Regions from separate parts of the Homo sapiens genome. Here regions 1 and 3 are each reported to be linked to region 2. The links are microRNA targets in miRTarBase. Many come from high-throughput screens and were not tested one by one. Region 2 holds a microRNA gene; each other region holds the end of a gene's coding sequence.
What was found. Region 2 holds the annotated microRNA hsa-miR-4510 (UGAGGGAGUAGGAUGUAUGGUU, at 2,239-2,260, opposite strand). A microRNA usually pairs through its seed, bases 2 to 8, with sites in the 3' UTR of a target mRNA and lowers its output. Matches are read on the target gene's strand: a 7mer-m8 pairs with bases 2 to 8, a 7mer-A1 pairs with bases 2 to 7 and ends in A, and an 8mer does both.

Region 1 (7,196 bases), not on the chromosome of region 2:
TTACGCCTGTAATCCCAGCACTTTGGGAGGCCAAGGCAGGCGGATCACGAGGTCAGGAGATCGAGACCATCCTGGCTAACACGGTGAAACCCTGTCTCTACTAAAAATACAAAAAAAAAATAGCTGGGCATGGTAGCGGGTGCCTGTAGTCCCAGCTACTCAGGAGGCTGAGGTAGGAGAATGGCATGAACCCGGGAGGCGGAGCTTCCAGTGAGCCGAGATCGCACCACTGCACTCCAGCCTGGGTGATAGAGCGAGACTTCATCTCAAAAAAAAAAAAAAAAAAAAAAAAGATAGGCTTAGGCTTGGCCTGACATGGTGGCTCACGCCTGTAACTCCAGTACTTTGGGAGGCCATGGCAGGAGAATCGCTTGAGCCCAGAAGTTTGAGACCAGCCTGGGGAATGAACAAGACACCATCTCTACCAATGAACAGATAAGCTTTTTTTAATCCAAAAAATAAGAGGTTGGCTATAATTCCTCACAGTTAATAGAATGGGTTTAATAGGAAAGGAAAGAAGGTCATGGCTAGAAAGTAGACACAAATATGTAACCACGGGAGCCAGTGCGTGAGAGCCGTGCTCCTGTGATGGCGTCTACTTTGCCCAGCTGTGGCAGCTCTGGCAAAATGAGGAACCAGTCAGCTGGGTGATTCTTATTATGAGGAAAGAGGTGCAAACCAACATAGCCTTTAATTAGGAATACTGGGGGACGTAATATTCAACAGTCCACAGCAGCCCTGAGCTATTGCATGGATGGCCCTGGAGCCAGCAGGGGATCCTGCCGGTGTCTGCGGTGCTGTCAGAGCCCTCAGGGTCCCTGCGGCAGCCTCTCCCACCCTCACTTGCCCTGTCTTCTTTTCCAGGTCACCCTGCACACAGGATTGGAAGTGCCGACTAACCTGGGGCGGCCAAAGCTGTCAGGCAATTAGCCCCGCTCCAGCTCGGCACTGTGCCTGTGACAGTGACATTCACAGGCAAAACGCCCACCATTCTCACTAAGCTCAAATAACCCACAAAAGCAGGATATGCAAATCATGGGTGCAACCTGGCAGCGTGGAGTGTCATAGAAACACATTTTCTTGGGGACGCAGGGAATGGGTCCACGGGCCATGCTCACAGCTGCCACTGTCAGTGGCAAAGGAAGGTACGTGTGTCACCCTTATTCCACCCAGACATTACGAACACTCCCCAAGAAGGACCTTTCTCAAGGGAGTCAGCATTCGGGCTTCATGTCTATGTTTCCTGCCATCTGTTTTCAAAGCTTGTCTTTTTTTGGAGGGAGAGGAAGGTAGACTTTGAGACTGGCCTCCTGAGAGCGGCAGTCAGGAGCTGCGCTGTAATCCCACGCCCCGGGTGTTGGCCCTCCGTGGGGACCTTGCCTCCTCAGAGTCCCGAGATTGCAGATTCTCATCATGCTGAGAAAGTTATCTTTTAGCTTCTTGGTCCTAGAGTCTTTAGTAGCACCTGCCACTTGCAGACCCAATGCAGGATTGATAGAAAGGGACATTAATCATTCATGCTTGACTTTTGCCTCTCTCACTGAAGTGTTAGAACCTTTTAAAATGGCTTCCTTTATTAATCAGCCAATTGTGTTCTCTCTCTCTCTTCCTCCATCCTTCATTTCTTCTCCCTCCCTCCTTCTCTTTCTCTCTTCTTCTCTCTCTCCTTCCTTCCCTCCTTTGCTCTCTCTTTCTTCCTTTCCTCCTTCTCTCTTACTTTCCTCCATCCCTGCCTCTTTCTTCCCTCTTTCGCTCTCTTTCCCTCCCTCCTTCTCTCTCTCTCTCACACACACACAGGCATGACAGTCTCCTAAAATTAATTCACTCAGTTCTTAGTTCTTAAATCCACGTGAAAACACAAGAATTTTAACAACTATGTCATAGGTCTTCGCCTGGTGATGGCTCCTTTCTGAAACTGGCAGCCCAAGAAGTTAACTGAAAATGCATCCAGATTGCTCTTCTGAGCTGAACCACTCTCAGACTCATAAGCATTTAAAATGGGAGACCCTGGGAAAGCCTGTTCTAGTCAGTCCACCCTATTGTCATTATGAAAGCATCATGAACACAAGTGGCCCCTGTGGCAGGCCGGGACGGCTCTGCCCTGATGCAGTGGGCGGGATCTCTGGGGAAGGCAGGAAATAGAAGGGCAGTATCAGGTACCTTGTCTCCCAGCTTCCCACTGTGAGACTGGGTGTGCCGAGTCTGACCTGCCAGGGCAGGACTCTGGAAACACCAGGCTTCTCCCTTGAGATCCACATTGATTCATCCACACCTCTCAGAGACAGCTCATGGCAGGGGTTTTGAGCCTGCCAGGCTCTTGTTCCCAGGGAACCCTTCCTCTCCTCCCTCCTCTCATCTTCCCAGTCACCTGCCACCTCCAGCTCCACCTGGTAGTAACATTTCTCTCTCCTTTTAAAAAGAATATATTTTGTCAAGCATTTTATTTCTGAGGCTGAGAAGTGACTTGTCAATTTGCTGGACTGGATTTTTATAAAATTCGCCCATTCACCAGCACCAACTGTGCGTCCTTGGTTCTGCCTTCCTGTTCAGACACCGCGCCTGCTTTCTGAGTAACTGCCTGCCGGAGCCATGCAGGTACCCCCCCTCCACTCAGCAGGCCCGACAATCCTACCTCAAAGCTCATGCTCTTGGTCTGCAAGGCTGCTTGGTCCGCTGTCTCTGCAGATGTGGCCGGCAAGGCCAGCTGCCCCGTCTCCAGGAGCTGCTCGGTGCTGTGTTGCAGTCTCTGCTGCGGAGCCTGGGAGCTATCTGCTTCATGGAAGTCTAGGTCTTGCCTCTTCCTTGTCATCTCACCAAGCGGTTTCTGGGTCTCCTCCTCCCATCCCAGAGCCCTGTCCAGAGCTCTTGGTGGTGACACACAAGACCTGGGACCCTGTGTCCTTGCCCGCACCTCTGCCTCTGTCTCCCATATCCCTGCAGCTTCATCCTTAGCCATAGCTCTGGGTGGCCTTTGCTTGGAGCATGGAGACGATCCCTAAAGATTGAGGATGAAGAGGAGCCACCACTTTCCTGGGGCCAAGGAAGCCATCAGCTTTGGGAAGTGTCTAGCTCTCTTCTGAAAAAAAAACAGGCCTACACCCTGCCCCCAGAATGAGAGTGGGCTAGGCAGGGCTGCCTGGTGACAGCAGCTTCTCACAGGGGAGCCCTGGGGAAGGCTGTGGAGCCTCCACCATCACCACAGCCCAGGTCACCAGGTGGCCCCAGCTCTGCAGAAGAATCGCCCATCATTGGAGCACAAGTTGCCTGGGGCTACCCTGAACCTAACCCCTTTGAGGGAGCAGCATCCAGGTCAGGAGAGAAGTGGAAAGTGCAGGAGGGTAATGCCCTCAAATCCGGTGGCCTCTTTCAGAAAAAAGTTCCCTGAAGTCCAGAGAGGTGCAGCCAGGACTCCCTCCTCCCCACTGCCACCCTGAGCTTGGGGGCTGGGATTCTCCCTTTTCTGACTCCTCCAGGAGCCCAGAAGCAATACGGCCGATGCCAGGGACAGCATCCAGCTCTCCTTCACAGACACCTCTCCTGTCTTCAGCACAAAACACCTTCAATGTTCTGACTTCAAAGAGAACGACAGGTCCGTGCCACACACTTGTGTTTTTGAGGGATCAGAAAAGTGAAGAAGGAACTTATCAATTCCTCATGGCCAGGAAGGTCCCGGGTTTCAGAGTAGAAATGACAGACAGGTCATGGAATTCTCATCCACCATCGAATTCCATAACACGTTACATCATGGTGGCACATTTGTACATACATATAAATGATATCAAGATGAGGCTTTTGTTGGGCTGGCTGAGGAGTAACTTGGTGTAAATCTATCAAGCAGTTTCAGTGAAAAAGGAATTCAAAGTAGTTTAAAAATGTCGAGTTCCATTGCATTGTAAATAGTGCCTCTGTAATGTGGTTCTGCAGTTGTTCTTTGCTAGTGAGCAAGCTTGGTCAAAGTGTATGCCTTTTCCTTTTAAAATTAATCTCTTCCGAAAATATCCACTAGCACCTCACTGCATACATAGCATCCCAGCTCCTAATTCAAAGCAGGGGAAGGTATTTCCCCAAAGCCTGCTTTTCCTCTCTCTGTTCTCCTTGGGAAAATAATGATTCCAATTAAAGAGGACACCAGTAATACTGACCCACAAGGTAACTGACCTAAACACTATAAAACTGTATATATTTCCAGGCTGCATCTTCAGCCTGATATGTACTTTGTAGTTGCAACAGCGCCCTAGGTGCCCTATGGCCCACCAAGTTTGAGGAGGGTGGTGCTTTCCGGATTGAGCCTGGGCAGGCTCTGTGGAGCTCACCAAGAGAGCTGGGGGCAGGCCCACCCTCCTCTTTGCGCCCTTTCTCTCCCTCTTGGTGCCCCTGCCCTCCGCCCCACCACAGCACTCTCAGGAAAGGATCAGAATGCAGGATCTTTGTGTATTTCTTCCAGGGATATTTGCATTTAAGCCTTAATTCTCATTGCAAGCGAAAGGCTTGGTCCCCCTGGGAAGGCGGGTTTCGGCACCGGTGGGCAGGTGGTTCAGTGTCAAGGAGGCTGCTGCTGGTCCCATGGCCACCTGCTGGCTTTGAGGTAGTGAGGGAGGGTCAATCCTTAGGGGGAGTCAACATGTGAATGCTAAAGAACACTGCTGCACAGCCCGTGGGGTGGCGCCAGGGTTTCTCAACCTCTACTGACATTTTGCGATAGGTTCTGTATGCCGTAGGATGTTTAGCAACATCCCTGGTCTCTACCCATCATCTGCCAGTAGCAACCCCCAAGTTAGGTGTGACAACCAAAAGTATCTGTCGACATTGCTAGGTATCTCCTGGGGGCCTCCACAAGTTGAGAACCACCAGGTTATGCCAGTGGTTTGTCATGCATGGATCTGTAGAGGGACTGTGGCGCTCCGGCTGCTTTGTTCCATAGAAAGCCTGTATGTGACAAAGCTGCCAGCCTTTATCTTGATACCCAAGCCCAGGATTTTCCATGTGTCTTCAGGGGGCAGGTAGGGGAAAATGGGGTGAGCCACCTCCAACAGATGCCAACCTGTTGGGTCTTGAATTTTCACTCACTGAAGATGCCCCCTGCCCGCTCCCCACTTCCTAGAAAGCAAAACTCGTTACCTTTGTTTTCCTTGGCCACATTTTACTGGAAGCAACAGGAACTTCTTAATGGGTTTGTGGCCCTCAATTGGTTTTTAAAAAAATCTAACAGATCTTATTGGCAAATATTCAAGATGGTGATGCTGGAAAATTTCAGGACTTTTCTTTTGCAAGTGAGCCGGTAGCTGTGTTTGTTGACCACATTCTTTGGCAGTTCCTCCCAGAAGATCAAAGGATCCTGCAGCTTTAACCTAATATCTAGGCTGTAAAAATATGAGGGCAGGTTTCGGGCAGGATGTATTGATCAGACACCAAGTTCAGCCCTCGGTTACTTCCCTCTTTTAACCTGGCTTTAATAGTGATTCATGGTATGAGTGGGGGCCAATCTCTTATCCTTTCTGTGCCTCAGTATCCCCACCTGAAATGAGACTAGTCATACTAACCTACCTCCTCTGATGTATTGTGAGGATTATACAATAACATTTTTAAAGAAAAAAAGTGCAGTCTTTCATCTCTGGCATCTAAGCTAATGATTCCCATTCAGTGACTCAAACCTGTGGGGGGCGTTCCAGTGTTCTCTGACCAGTGTCTTCCATCCAAGCCTCCTTGTGACCAGGGCAAGGAGCTGCCTGGCCTCCAGTGGGTAAAATAGACCTTTAAGACAGGTTTCCTATGACCATAGAAAGTAACACCCCATATGTTTCCATTCCCGGCGAGGCCTGTTTGAATGGCGCTCTGTGTGAGTGCTATGAACAGGCTACCTGTCAGCAGTCTCACTGCGAGGCCTCAAGGCCTCTGTGAGCAGAAGCCCCTTTAAACCAAGGAAGGACACTAACCCAGGCCTCTGCCTTCTTTGTTACCTAAGTTCTGGTATCTAAGGGGTCTCTCATCTCACAGCTTGCCTCCTTTGTTTCGAGGGGTCTCTGCAGTGTGAATGGGTTTGAAATCCAGTGTGGATAGCACGAAGAGATGCAACTGAGCCGAAGTTTTGAAGGCTGGTTGGGCTAGTGGGTCATCATGTCACTTTCAGATGACTGATAACCGCTGGGACTGCTGGGGCTTCACCAGCACGAGCTATGCAGGTTGGGGGAGGCCCTGGCTTTTTCAATGATTGACGTTGACATCAGTCAGGAGCTGGGAGTTGAGACCTCCAGGGAAGTCTCGTCCGGATCCATCGCTCTTCTCTCAAGGAGCACAGTCCTGGGAAAGGCCTAGGGACCTGTGGGCCGGTGATGCGGGCACTGCAGACCAGGCCAGGCCCTCGGGTAAAGCTCTGAGGAGAGGCCAAAACCAGGCTTCAGGTTCGGGAAGGTGACTGCTTGCAACTGCAGTAGCAGGAACATGTCAGGTGCTTACTGGGTGAGACCCAGCCGGGGAAGCCTCTCCAACTCCTCCTAGCCCTGGAAACCAGACACCCAGAGCCCCAGGCTTTCTCGGCACCCAGAAGAAGTGGGGAGCGGGCAAAGCAGAAAACATTCAATGCATGATGTAGGATTGCTGCGTTGGCACTAAGCTGTTGTATTAAGCATGAGAGGTGTTTGTTTAACGTTGGCAAAGGGATTTAACAAGAAACAAAAAGCTTCGCGTCCTTGTTTTGACCGTCGACAGAAGTCCAATTTTCTTGCCTTTCTTTATCCCCATTTCTCCTCCCTCCCCTTCCCCCATCACATCCACTTTCGGTCACTCGTTGTTGGTATTTGGTGGCAGCTCTTGGTCCTATTGCTGTGGATGTTCCACTGAAAACACGGGGGGTAGCGGGGAGTGGTAAGGAAAGCAACTTTTTTCTAATTTTTGTATTGGTATCCACAAGCGTTTGTATTTTTTGAATTGCAAACACTGTGTTTTCTGGTCTTTGGGGGTTAGTTGAACTTTCTGTATTACCTTTTGGAAAACCTGAGTTTTACCACAGTCTTAAGCAGATTTGAAATAAATTCTTTTGACACTGCCAACAACAGAAAGACAAGATGTGGTCTGTAATTCCTGCTCCGTGGTCAGGTCTGCCTTTTTCCCAACTGGCCCTGACTGCCCAGCAGACAGGGCAGAGGCTACAGGAGGGGAGGCCACACGGTCTCTTCCCCCAGTGGGGCTGGGCGTTACTA
Region 2 (7,196 bases):
TGACAGGTTTTGCTAATAGGAAGAGTGGGAGAGCTGGATCTGTCAAGGTAAGCAGTACGTATGAGAGTCAGTGAGGCTTGAAGTAGAGGCTTGCTTGGCAGAGGTGAGAGTGCATCTGAGGCTCGATGTCATGAATCTGTGGGCAGTCACAACTGCTAACTCCTGTCTAGTGCTGTGTTCCAGTTGTCTACTGCTGTCTAACAAACCACCTTAAAACTTCAGGCAATTAAGACAAAACTTATTTAATATTTCTTAAGGCCAGGGGGTTGATTGTGCCCAACTGGTTGGTTTTCACCTGAGGTCTCTCAAGCACTTACAGGCAGCTGTCATCTAGGCCTGCAGTCACCCAAAAGCTCAGCTGGGCTAGAAGTTCAATATGGTACGCTTACATGTCTGGTAGTTGATACTAGCTGTCAGTTTTTGAAAGCTTAGCTAGGCTGGAGCAGCTAATCACGGCTTTGTTGTATGGTTCCTGCTTCTCACTGCAGAGACTGGGTTCTTGGAAGAAATGTCCTATGAGCAAATATTCCAAAATGTAGGGATCAGGAGTTGCTGGGCTACTTAAGGGCCATATGCAGAACCTCAGTTGTATATTATTGAATAGAGCAATCACATGGCCTACTCAGATTCAAAGTGGTTGGAAAAATAAACTTCTAATGGTGTAAGGACAAAATCACAATGAAGAAGAGTGTGTAAAGTAGCAAATTATATTGTGACCATCTTTGGAAAATATGATCTATCACATCCTCCAAGAGCTCTCTGTACTCTGGAATCAAAGCAGATATAAAGAATACAAATAAGTATTTTGGGAATATTATTTAAGGCATGGTATAAAGTTATGTAAGCACTGAACTGTAAGATGTAGTGACTTTGACATGTAAAGAAATTGATTATTTAATTGTGAGGACAGGAAAGAGCTCTAGACCAAAATTCTCCTTCTGGCTGTATATTTTATTAGCTATGTAGCCTTGGGATAGTAACTGGGCCTTCTAACTGTGTCTATATAACAAGAGGTCTGGATTGGATAATCTGTAAGAGACATTATCATTCTTAATAACTAGGAAACCATGGGCTTGATGCCTATTTGCTTACTGCGGGTCAGGGAGAATAATATGGTGAATGAATTGCTTATAAATCAAAATAACACATTTTGAACAGGGTTTGCTTTTCTGGGAATCAATAATTGACATTAAATACTGTAGAGAAAGTTATTGATGACATTGATTGTTAGATTAGTCCTTTGGCTCTAGAGTCAAAGGAAGGCATTTCCTAATGATCTTCTATAATATACAAACTTTAAGTTTCTTTTCTATGTATTTCACTCTAATGTGAACTCAAATAATCTCTGACCTGCTAACAGATGTGGAAGCTGACAAATTTATTTGTAAGCAGAATAATTACCTCTTAATATTGATTTGTAAATCCATGTTGCCATTCATTGAATTTCTCCAAGTAGAAACAAGATATATCCAGGTCTACGACTGTGGATGGCTACATGTGGATCCCTACTTAATATTGAATGAGACAATGCATATCTGTCACAAGGTAATATATGATAGCTGTATCTAATTGCATATAAAAGAGGACCAAGCCAATTGACATCTCTCTGCTCTCAAGAAAACAATGTGAGCAGGACATAGATGTGTCTTGTGTTCCACACAGGGGGATTTTGGAGTTGTGGTAAATGAGATGGATTCTCTCCAGCGAACAAACCAAGAAAGGGTTGGAAAACAATATAAAATGGTCAGACATCTTCTGGATAGAGATTGTAGCGGAGTTTAGCATAGGATATGAGCCTTGCTAGGTTTTTCTATAATGACAAGTTTAAACAGGACCAATTTGCATTTTTATAAACAGCAATCACTTCCTAGAATTCTAGGGTTTCCCAAATCAAACTCCTGAATGTCAGTCTCTCCCACTTCAGTCATGGGTAACTGCCCTCTCTCTGAGCATTACCCCTCATTTATCTTAAGGAAAATGATAGACCAGTTTGTAGCATATCCTAAATTCTCTACTTAAATTGTGCTGCAATAGACACACAATGAGACACCATCAACTAAGCAACCACTGAATGACTATTACATACAAGACACTGTATTGGAGGCTATCAAAGGGTATATTCATTCATTCATTCTTCTTCTTTTTTTTTTTTTTTGCTTATTCCATGAACATTTCTGAGTGCCTACTTAATGACAGGCTCTGTCTGTTGTGAGAAAAGATTGTAGTTGTCTATCTAACAACCATACATCCTACTCCCTCACATACACACTATTCCACAGAGGCAACCTGGTATTCATCTTAAAGGCAACAACTCTGGGGCCAGATCACCTGAGTTACAACCCTGCTGTCACTACTGAATAACAGTGTGACCTTAATTAATTAATTAATTAATTAATTAATTAATTTATTTATTTAATACAAGGTTATCTTGCTGTCTCACCAAGGGTGAAGTGCTTTGGCATGTCCATAGCTCACTGCACCCTCAAACTCTTGGGTTCGAAGGATCCTCCAGGTTCAGCCTCTTGAGTAGCTAGAACTACAGGTCCACACAATCACACCTGGTTAATTTTTAATTTTTTTTGTAGATATGGGGTTTCACTATGTTGCCCAGGATGGACTCAAACTCCTGGCCTCAACCCATCTTCCCACCACTGCCTCCCAAAGTACTGGGATTATAGGCATGAGCCGCTGTGCCTGGCCCTTAAGTTACTTAATATCTTGATAAGTTATAGATAATAACCACCTCATATAATTTTTGTATTAAATGATTTAATACACATTTCTATATCTCTTTATGTATGTTTAATAACTCTTAGAATAGTGCCTCCCTTGTTGTAAGTGCTGTGTAAGAGTTGATTTTGTTCAAGTCTTGGTAGGCCATATCCTTCAAAGGAGACTAAGTCCCTTCTCAGCTGAAGGTGCATATCAACTCTGGTTGAAATGACTCATGTAAATTCCATTCTCTTGTCCATGATGTAATGTCATTCTGTCCAGTAAAATGTGAGGGGAAGTCTGGGGTGGATTTCTAGTACAGTTTTTCTGACTTTTATGAAAGAACATAAGGAAGAGATGGTCTATCTTCTCACCTCTGGAAGTTATTGTTGAGGATATAAGGTTGGAGTAACTTGGGGATGTGAGGGGCCACGTAAGGACAAACACGAACATTCCAAAGATGGCAGAACAAAATGTGGAAATGAAATGGATCCCTGAGCCATTCATTGAGCCCTTGAAGTCAGTGATCTTGGAACATACAACAGGACTTGTCAGACAATAAAGATAACAAAGCCCTCATTGTATGAGTCATTTTGCTTGTTTTCTGTTACTTGCTGGTGAGGTCATCAGGTGAACTGACACATCGTTCTTCCCTGATCATGAGGATTCATGGTATCATTAAAATTTCTTTTTTATTTAAACAAATATGAGAAACGAAACACGCTCAGACTTTCTAGTAAGGAAAAACAAAAGCCCACCTCAGAGGACGAATAAGCAAGCCATTTACCCTAATTCAGGTGTGTGGTATTTATTTTAATATGTATAAAAATTACAATAGATACAAGTGTAAAATGGTGTGAGATTGATTTCATCAGTCTTGTCACATAAGAAGAATAAACCTCTGGGTCACTCTCCGCTGCACGATGGCATAATAAATAAGGAAAACATGGTCATGACTCCTTCTCTATGAGAGATGCGATAGTTGATTAAGTGCAATCTATTAGTAGCTGCCAGTAACAAGAAAGGTTAATTTAAACCAGATAGTCTCAGGTTTCAACCTCTTCTATGGCTGCAAATCTGGATAGGTGTCCTTTGCTTACTGGTTCAAGCTACTGACAGGCAGACCTGAAATGGTTTTGGCTTCTGTCTGTGGCCCCAGAGCCAGGCAATCCAATAACAGTCTTTTCCCTTTAACTCTCAAACATAGGGATGATAGTGGCTTTTTGCTACTGTAATGTCTGGGTTGCCTTATTATCATTTGTTTGGCTTCTCAGCACCTCCCTCTATTAAAATTCCTCCTATCTGGAGTGACTATTGTTGTCCTGATTGATACGCTATCCTTGGTTTTATTCTGAACTATGGAAATCATAGACATTAGTTGTAACATCCAAGACTCAACCTTGACTTCTCCCAGTGATCCTACCTTTCCAATCATTGGTGATCATACCATCTTCAGTTGTATTTCAGAGGGGACTTACATGCCCCTGATTGCATGTATTCCCCAGACAAGGTCAACCTGGTTGAAACACAGCCTCAGTCTAGTATATCAATGTGTAATTAGTTCATTGTTTCATTTGACCTATGAATAACTATGACCAAGAGGGTATCAGAATTTATACAAAGCCATGTTATTATGGAATTCTAATATAGTTTGCTTTGCTATATATGATGGTGTTTTCATGAGGAGACTTTCATATATAAATAATAGAGAAAACTTGTAACATGGACTGTCCCACATAAGCAAAGCCACAACAAAAAACACATGAAAAGAACTATTGAAGGGCGAATGGTGGGTAATAAAGTAATGGAAATTATGCAATAAGACACTAGAGAGCCAGATAAATCTAAATCTCTAACAAGTCATGCAGGGTCTTAAGGTTGCAGCCCATGGCAGTGGAGAATTTTTGGGTGGACCTCACTCTGCTGTGCCTGCAGAGGGGTTGCCCTGGCTTTCTATCTTCCTTACTGAGAAGAATTTTCAGCAGTTCAATAGAAAACATTTACTGGGGAAAGGTGATATTTTACATAATGATTTTCCTGCCTTTGATTCCGCACATGTTGTTTTGTCTTTGAAATGTGCTAAAAGATGTATGTAAGCTGTCTGGCACTTTGTGCTTTTACAACCTGTGTTGTTTCAAATCCACAGCAAGGCAATTTTAAGTATTTGGGGTAGCACTTTCTTATGTCTGTTCTTTCTTTCTCCAGGCAGATGAGCTCATCAGACACTATTAGCCCTAGCTATAGAAGTTTAGAGGTAAACCACTGTCTGAACTGAACTAGTAAAACTGCTCTAAGCTGCAGTTTCCCTGAAAGTAAAGTATTAACTATCTATCATGTACTATGATGGATGAAGCCCATTAGATAAAGAAAAAGTCTGTTTTATTGGTTGAAAAATAATTAATCTTTACGAAGGTGATAAGCCTCATTTTACTCTTCATATTTGGAAGGATCTCGTGTCTTGAGCTTTGGCATGAGCATGCTGAGATGGCTGAGTGCAAGAACCACAGATGCTTAAGAGGATATGATGGAAACTTCTAGGTTTGTTACTAAACCAATTCTCTAACTTTTAAAGTGACACAATAAGAATAACGGGGTTAAGATGTGTTCTGAATTTTCTGTAGGAACATGTACACAAAATCAGATTCTGCTCTACAATGTAACAATTTTAGCAACTTCTTGAAATACCTCTATTTGTACCATTATGGTTTGGTACCCAAGTTAAAAGTCTCTGCATATCAGAAGGATGTCACTTATGGGAAAGAAGAAAGAAAAGTTTACTTTCTAGAGTATATTATTTTGGAAACACAATGTATTGTTTACGTGTAATAAAAATATAATGGTAACATTCAAACATGTTCATATCACCTCGTTGTATTTTTAAACTATAATTTTTGGCAATCATCAAGGAAGAAGAGACAATAGGGTGCATTTTAATTACAAAACAAACAAAACAATTCTCCCAGGCATTTCTGATGCAAAAGAGTTTGAGGATGTATGTCTTGGCAGGTCCAAAAATCAAAATGCAATTATTCTTTATATTTGGTTTTGTATTTTACCAGTGATAATGTAACAATTTTACCCACATATAGAACATAAGTAAATTATGCTACAGGTCTTGCAAAGCAGTACATTATTTTGCATCCACAGAGCTAGGTTCACACAACTTCTGCTTACTAGTTGTGTGACTTCTAATAAATATTTAATCTCTATGACTACCTTTTCATCTGAACAATGGAGATAATACCTATCTCGTAAGATTGTTTGAGTAGTCAAATGAGATAATGTAAGGAAAATGATAACTCACAGTTAATGCTTACTTACAATTCTCATCTAGATGTAATTTCCCTTTTTTTATCTTAATACAGAAATCTGAACACTATGGTTTAAACAATGTTCTCTGAAACATATAATTGCAAAAAGTAAAATCAAGGGTACCACCAGCCTAGAAATTAAGGATTTGGTAATTATTCCTTCTCCTGCCCTAATCATTCAGTTATTGCATTACACAAAACTTCCCAAATGTCCTACATGTCCATGATTACAACTTCCTTAGGACTTTTATTAACAAAGGTAGTGCACAGAACAATGCTAATTTTAATGTTCAACCAAGGCAGTAACCAAAAAACAGAATTCCTATTCCTTTGTTTCCTGGACATTATGTCCTGTAGTAACATAAAATGTCATCATATAGGTAATTGCCTATCCAGCTCTGCATAAGACTGGCTTTGAACCTGTGTAAGTGTATACAACTAAATTTGTCTAATCCTTCCTGATCTTGCTCTGATAGGCTGAAACCAGGTTGACCGTGCATGTGTGAATGGCTATACCGTATTGTGCCTTAGGGCACTGTGGTGGAGGTTGCTTGTACATAAAGAAAGGAATTACCTGAAATAGTGCAAATGGATTGTGAAAAATATTGGAATCACAAGATTTCAAACCCTTACTCATTTATTTACACAGCCAAAATCATAGATATTTGTTATTTCTAAAATAAGTAATGAGCAGACAGATGAAGAGAGGGGACTTCTAGAATATTTCTATACTTTTCTGAGCTTACTAATACAAATATCCTGGCCTTCTCATCTATAAATACCATCTTGCAGAAGTTCCATCTCTCTCCTGAGCTATAACTAAAAATTATAAAAGTTGTCATTGAGGCTTCCAACTTTGCCTGTCACCCTTTGGTTTCGTTATTCTTTTTGCTGTCTTAAGTTTCACGGGTAAAATAGAAAGATGCATCTCTAGAGCTTTTGATCTTAAAATTCCAAGGAAATACTAGTAAATTGCTTTATCATTTTGGGGGAATAGTAATACCACTGATGTAGTAACCATGAATAGAATAATTTATGACAAATATTGTCGATAATAAGAAATTTTAAGTTTACTCCTCCACAATATCTCATCCTGATGTGGTATCTTCATGATGACAATATTAATAATACATAAACATTTTTACTTTGTTTTGCTGATATATTTATATATAA
Region 3 (7,196 bases), not on the chromosome of region 2:
GGCGGATCACGAGGTCAGGAGTTCGAGACCAGCCTGACCAACATGGTGAAACCCTGTCTATACTAAAAATACAAAAGTTAGCTGGGCATGGTGGCACGCACCCAGCTACTTGGGAGGTTGAGGCAGGAGAATCGCTTAAACCTGGGAGGCGGAGGTTCCAGTGAGCTGAGATCGTGCCACTGCACTCCAGGCTGGGCGACAGAGCAGGACTCTGTCTCAAAAACAAAACAAAACAAAAACATTATTTACCTAAAGTATTTTACAAATTTAGGGCATGATCATGAAAAGCATCTTCCTCTAAGGTTGGGCAGGGGTGGGGGTTGGTAGATAATACATTCGGAGTTTACAGGGAATGTATGTATTGATCTTCTCAAAGAAATCTTACAAAAAATCTTGAGCAGCAGATATTTTTAGCCTCATTTGATAGAAGTGAAAATCAAGGCCCTGCATGGTTAAGTGATTTACTAAAATAAAAGTCGCTTGGCTAGTGTAGAGCCATGCTGTGAATCAGTTCCTTTCCCTTTTGGTCTAGGACTCCCTCCTCTGAGTCCTGCTGTTTCCTCCAGTCTCACTGCACACCACTGCCTCATGCTTCCTGGGGCCTCCAGCAGCTCCACTAATGGAGGAGAGGCAGTAGCCTCCGACACAGAACGCATGGACCTCCTACTACTGTGTGTGAGGAACAGTCACTACCCACTGGCCAGCCACCCAGCCAACAGGTCTCTCCTCTTGGGCCCTGATTTCAGAGTCCTCTTTCTCACTAGAGACTCAATGACAGAAGAGAGGCTGGGACTTGGTTGGGCATGCTGTGGTTGCTGAGGGATGAGGGGGAGGAGAGAGGTAGGAGCTGGAGATGAAGAGGCTGCTAGAAGCAGCAGGAAGCCTGCCCTTCTGCCCTCTCCCCTCCCTGCCCCTGTGTGAGTCTTTTGGGAGGGTGCTGGGAGGTGCCCCCCGTCCCACCTTTTTCCTGTGCTCTAGGTGGGCTAAGTGCCTCCCTAGAGGACTCCATGGCTGAGAGGCTCCTGGGCAGATGGGGTCAAGGCTGGGCCAGCCCAGATGAAGCCTATGGGAGTCAGGACCCTCTCCACTCTCCCTCTCCACTCCCCTTCCTGTTCTCACCTGGCTGTGGCTGGCCCTGTGTGGGGTGGGTACACTGGAAAACAAGAAGGTTGGAGTTGGTCTAGGACATTGGTTTTAAATGACAGTTCTGTGAACTGGTCCAAGGAGTTCTGTTATTAAAGTGATATATGGTCTTGGTCCAGTTTTCTCTGTCTCCTCTCTCTCACTCGCACAAAGACAGACAGACAGACAGACAGACACAAACACATATTACAGGGTAGAATTACAATTTTCCTTCTATCTTCTATACATATTGAAGCTTTGGTGCTGACTCCTGTTCATCTACTTGAGAATTTTGGTTTGTGCTTATTTGTTTTGCCCAGGCTGGAGTGCAGTGGCACCATCTCTGCTCACTGCAGCCTCGATGTTGTGGGCTCAGTGCCTGCCACCTCAACCTCTCTGGTAGCTGGGACTACAGGTGCATGCCACCACACACGGCTAATTCTTCTTTTGTATCTTTTGTAGAAATGGGGTTTGTTTAATTCTTTAAATTTGTTAAATCTATATGTTGGCTGGGCGCGGTGGCTCACCCCTGTAATCCCAGCACTTTGGGAGGCCGAGGCCGGCAGATCACGAGGTCAGGAGATCGAGACCATCCTGGCTAACACAGTGAAACCCCATCTGTACTAAAAATACAAAAAATTAGCCAGGCATGGTGGCGGGCGCCTTGTAGTCCCAGCTACTCGGGAGGCTGAGGCAGGAGAATGGCGTGAACCTGGGAGGCAGAGATGGCAGTGAGCCGAGCCGCACTCCAGCCTGGGTGACAGAGTGAGACTCTGTCTCAAAAAAAAAAAAAAAAAAATCTACATGTCATGATCTGCAATGAAAAGCCTTAGCCATCCAGGTGCTCTGAGATCTTGAGTCTGAGAAGCACTTAAGTCAATGCTCTCTTGGGAAGGTCTGGTTTCCCTGCAAGGCCCATCTCTCCTTCTCTCTCCCCTTTTTTTTTTTTTTTTTTTTTTTTTGAGACGAAGTCTTGCTCTGTCACTCAGGCCGGAGTGCAGTGGTGCCATCTTGGCTCACTGCAACCTCTGCCTCCCGGGTTCAGGCAATTCTCCTGCCTCAGCCTCCCGAGCAGCGGGGATTACAGGCATACTGCAGCCACCATGCCTGGTTAATTTTTTGTATTTTTAGTACAGACGGGATTTCACCACGTTGGCCAGGCTGGTCTCGAACTCCTGACCTCAGGTGATCCATCTGCCTCGCCCTCCCAAAGTGCTGGTATTACAGGTGTGAGCCACCGCACCTGGACCCATCTCTCCTTCTTAGCTCTTGTTTTGGAACTGGGCCTTTGACTTGGCCTCTCTTTTTGAGTTTTATGCCCAGTTAGCATTTCCTTGGGTAAGCCTCTCCCCAACTCTCTCCTCTCTAGCAGTTAAAATGTGACTGGCATCTTCTTTCTAAAAACTGCAGTGAATTTTTTATGGTGCTTACCCAAGGAAATGCAACTAGTGTTTAGCAATAACAGAACTTTGTGAGTTTATCAGCATATTTTTTGAGGAGTTGTACAAATGATTACTCATTTCTAGAGGGTCTGCTCCCTTTACATGAAGTGCACTAGAAAATGAAGGTTTCAATTTACTGCCAGTTTATTAACCAGGGAAGTAGTTGCTGGGAGTCTGCTGTCAAACTGTAGAAGCAACGTGGGAGAAGTTCTGCTGAATGGCAAAATAGCCTCGCCCTGTGTCCCTGGAGGTCAGACCTTCAGCCTCTACCCTGGGATCAACATTTACTGCCCAGCTCCCTTAAGTCCCTGCCTCAGGAGGCACTGATGGGGTAGTAGATCCCCCTGGGCAGGGATAAGTTAACAGCAAATCCAGCAGCTGTGATCTTTTTTGTGTTTCTGATGTCAATCATAATCATTTGCATATTTAAAGGGAAGTTTAAAAAAATTACAGCCATCAAGGTCTTTCAATACTCAGTAACATTTGAATAGTGTTTTACAGTTTAGAAAACATGCCCATATGTGGGAGCTCACAAATCTATGTGGTGCAGATGTTATTATTATTGTCCTCATTTTCCAGATAAGAAAATTAATTCAGAGAGATTAAGTGACTCCCCCAAGACCACCCAGCTGGTAAGCACTAGAGCCAGGATGTCAACCGTGGGTCTTTTTACTCTAAATCCACATTACTGTCATGCACATGAATGAATGAGATGGTCCAGTATTGCACAGAAGAATAGAATTGGAAGGTACTTGCTCAGGTCACCTGGTGTAAGTCACCTGCTTATAGTAATGCCTTGGCACACCTACCTTTTTTTTTTTTTTTTTGAGACAATCTTACTCTGTCACCCAGGCTAGAGTGCAGTGGCATGATCTTGGTTCACTGCAATTTCTGCCTCCCAGGTTCAAGCGATTCTCATGCCTCAGCCTCCTGAGTGGCTGGGACTACAGGTGTGCACCACCAAGCCTGGCTAATTTTTTTTGTACTTTTTTTTTTAGTAGAGATGGGGTTTCGCCATGTTGGCCAGGCTGGTCTTGAATTCCTGGCCTCAAGCGATCCACCTGCCTTGGTCTCCCAAAGTGCTGGGATTACAGCCGTGAGCCACCACACCCGGCCTCCCACACCTACTTTTTTATAGATGAAGGAACCAAAACCCAGGAATTTAAGAGGCTCCTGCCAAAGACCCTTCTCAACAATATTCTTAGAAATTTTCAGTTCTCCCTGAGATTCACGGTCTTGACTAAAACTTACAAATGAATATCTCCTATAGGAGAGCTATAAAGGGTACCCTAATTAGAGAATTTGCTAATAAAGATTCCTTGCTTACCTATACAGAAGTTCTTGTTCTCTTTGGCCAGGCTACCAGTCAGATCTGCAGATGCAGAATCTCTCACTTTCCTTATTAGCATCTGCCAGTCCAGCTCTTTGGAAAGGGAAGGGAAGCGAGTGGCCTGGCCAGCTCCGTTCCCCTGAGCCTGCTCCTGGAATGAAGGGGTGGAGGTGGGGCCAGGAAGGTTGGGAAGATTCGGGTTCAGAAGGGCCTTAATGAGGACCAGCTGGGTTCCCAGCTATCTTAAGCTCTGTAGGGAATTCGGAGGTAGAAAAGCCGACTGTCTTATTGGAGAAATGAGACTTATTTGCAATAAATTACTAGTAGCCAGCCAGGCAGAGAGCTGAGTGGGGAGGTAGTAATTGCTCAGGGAGTTCCAAGAGCCTGTTGTTACAGAAGTCAGAGTAATTCTGTATGTGGGAAACCTCTGCCTTCCTCCGGTAGGATTCAGCATCCCACCTGCTTGGGCAGAGCTTTCGAGCCTCCTGAGATGTTCCAAGAGGGTCATTCCTGGCTGCCATGATGGGTGCAGATCCCTTCCCTCTTCTTCTGTGTGCTTGTGGGGTCTCAAGGATGCTAGAGGGTTCAGCATCCCTCTAGCATCAGATTCAGGTTCTCCCCTCCTGACACCTTCTGTGGAGTCGTGCTTTTCCTAAAAGGGTTTCTGGGAACAAGGGGCGGCCCTGCCATTCCTCAGGAACATTTCTCAGGCTCTTTCTTATATTTTCTTTTTGGAGGTGCTTGGCTCACCCACAATAGGACAAAACTGGAAATGCTATAAATGCTTAGAACTGGTTTGGTAGCTGTCAGATGTTTTCCCAAGTCCCTCTGATGCTTCTTCTCTCCTCTCTACTCTGCCGTCTCCTGGCCATGCTCTCAGGACCCTCTTGCTGCTCCACAGCTACTCAAAGGAAAACCTACCTTCACCTGCCCCCACTTTCCAGTCCAGCATCCTGGGCCTGAGCCCCATCTATACCTCCCTAGCAGACATGCTGCAGTGAACACTCAGGGTGTGCCGCACCCTCAGGACTCTGTTTCCTACTAAACTAATCAGAGCCAGGTGTTGTTAATGACTTTTTCAACTGTGTGTTAAATCCCTCCACCTCTAGGCAGGTTCGTAAGGAAGTAGGTAGGCAGCAGCTTCCTACTCCTGAGGGCTGAGGCTGGTCTCTCTCATACATTCAAGGCTGGGAAAGAGAGAGGCCAAGCAGGCCTGCCTGCTCGGAGTCTCCCCAGGGTGGAGCACTCCAGGGGGATCTGTGGAGGCTTTCACCTGGAGGTGGTGCTGGAGGGAACCAAGCTGGGGAATCAAACAGAATGGAGAGAGAAATCGTGGCTGCAGAGGCACAGAGTCCTTGCTACTTAGCCTCTCCCAGAACAGCACGTGGGCTCCAGGAAGGCAGAGACTTGCAAAAGGCTGGCATCATCTCGGAGCTTTCTCCCTTCCAAGGAACCTCTGGCTGTGACATCTGATAGTAGGAAACAATGGTTCTAGATGCAGAGTCCCATCACATCCCACGTGGGAATGTGCTGCTCGAGCAGGTGACTCAGTCTCCCTGGATTTTGGTCTCTCATCTGTCAACTTAGAAGTCTGGGCAAGATGGTCTCCACGGGATCTGCCTTGTTAGACCAGCTTTAACTCAAACTTCTTTTGCCTCTTGAGATGTCTGCCCACCACTTCCAGTTTGGATAACCTTTAGGAGCAGCCTGTTCCCTGGGACAGATCTACAGAAGTCAGCTTGCTATAGCTTCACAGCACTGCAAGGCTGCCGTCCCTGGGAGCCCTCTGGGTCCATGGGAGCAATAGAAACTGGGCAAAAGACTTGGAAGGCAGCTTTCGCCATGTTGCTGTACCTAGCATTTGTACCCTGGGCAAGGATTCAAGGAAAGGTTGAGCCCCTCAATCTGGCAGTTTTTTAGGTGCTCTCCAGCTCACTTTCTGATACCCCAGGCTCTGTCTGAAGCCTCATGGGCCCCAGCTCCGCAAAGGCAGCCAAAGGAATTTCCTCTCTACCACGAAGACCGTGAACGCTTTCCTTCTTTCTGTTTTCCTTGACAGCTCCTAAGCTGGCCATGAGGACCCACTCCTTCCTCCAGCCTTTCTTCATGCCTAGAATAGTGAGGAAAGTTGTGGGTTAGCAGAACCGCTAGAAAACATCTGGGATCCAAACCCTGCTCTGGACCCAGCCACATGCCAGGCTCAGGGAGGGAGGATCGGTTTTCCCACAGCCCCTCTGTTAGGGTGACCCATCTTCCAAGTTGGCCCAGGACTGTCCTGGTTTTAGCACTGAAAAGCTTATGTCCTGGGAAACTTTTCAGTCCTGGACAAACTAGGACAGTGGCTCACCCTAAGTCTAATGCATCTCTTCTGTATAAATGGAGTTCTGCAAAATTCAGTGCATCCCCGAATCCTACTATCCTTCCTCAGTTTGAGGAAGCACTCCCTGGTGCACAGAGTTGGAGGAGGAAGGTCCTGGGAATTCTCAAGGTCTGAACTGTTTTGCAAAGGCTGTGACACCAGCAGATGCTGCCTTGCCCTGGAGGCCCTTAAGGAGAGAGCCCCTCCTTCCTCAGGGCCTGCAGCTTCCCTGGTTGCCACTTCCCTGTGGTAGCTTCTGAGCCTGCAGCCAGGGCAGCCCTCCCTCACCTTACCTAATGTTTTGCGCAAACAGCCTGGCCCTCCTAGGCCCAGAACTTCTCTGGCAATTTGCGGGAGGCTAGGAAGGTGAGTCAGGTGTAGTGTTACTCCGGCAAGCCATGCATATCGATGTCCCAGTTTCCCCTGGTCACTCTGATTTCTGGTTCCTAGAGCCCGGTGCGGGCTCAGCATGTTATAGGTGCTGGCTTCGAGTGGTTGAGCCCACTCAGGAGGAGGAAGAGAAGGGCCTGCCGCCCGTACGGGAGCTGGATGGGCTTCTTCTCCTGGCCTCTGCCTTCCAAAGATCATCAGAGAGGAGCAAAGAAGAGACTGCCAGACTGCCAGAGCCCACAGGGATTTTGTGGGGTTTGTTTTTCCTCAGCAGTCCCTGCAGAGGTGAGGACATGAATAAAAGAATGAGGGAAGATTTATTGTTCTCACTTCTTGGCAGTGAGCCTGTATTTGTATAGTGGATCCAGGAGGGGGCTGGAACAGTTGAGAGGACTGCTGAGGCCCAGGCAGAAAGTCAGACCTTGCAAAGTTTTCTGGAGGGACCCAGGTGGGTGGTGGAGGGCGAAGGTGAGGCTGGGAGGAGTGGATTTAGACCAACTCCTCCCCAACCATCAGGGGCCAGAGTGTCCCCACCAGCCACCAGCCTTTTCCC

Region 1: the mRNA of TRIM67 is a reported target of hsa-miR-4510. Seed matches in the 3' UTR shown: 7mer-m8 at 1,628-1,634, 7mer-m8 at 1,632-1,638, 7mer-m8 at 1,763-1,769, 7mer-m8 at 2,343-2,349, 7mer-m8 at 3,409-3,415, 7mer-m8 at 4,359-4,365 and 1 more.
Region 3: miRTarBase lists TMPRSS5 as a target of hsa-miR-4510. Seed matches in the 3' UTR shown: 7mer-m8 at 1,090-1,096.

What each region holds. Positions count from the first base shown.
Region 1 is chr1:231,214,511-231,221,706 of GRCh38, forward strand. TRIM67 (tripartite motif containing 67) reads left to right here. Exons shown (of 10, transcript NM_001004342.5): 10 at 865-7,055. The coding sequence ends at 930. Among named protein-coding and RNA genes, the nearest start is that of FSAF1, 23 kb to the right of the region's middle. RefSeq lists enhancers at 451-952, 866-975, 2,667-3,166, 6,317-6,817 and a silencer at 2,076-2,135.
Region 2 is chr15:35,921,927-35,929,122 of GRCh38, reverse strand. MIR4510 (microRNA 4510) reads right to left here and starts at 2,267; the gene lies at 2,200-2,267. All of the region lies in intron 1 of LOC105370766 (a long non-coding RNA gene), which reads right to left.
Region 3 is chr11:113,681,611-113,688,806 of GRCh38, reverse strand. TMPRSS5 (transmembrane serine protease 5) reads left to right here. Exons shown (of 13, transcript NM_030770.4): 13 at 533-1,257. The coding sequence ends at 547. It overlaps LOC107984390 (a long non-coding RNA gene), which reads left to right and starts at 2,297. Exons shown (of 3, transcript XR_001748391.2): 1 at 2,297-7,196.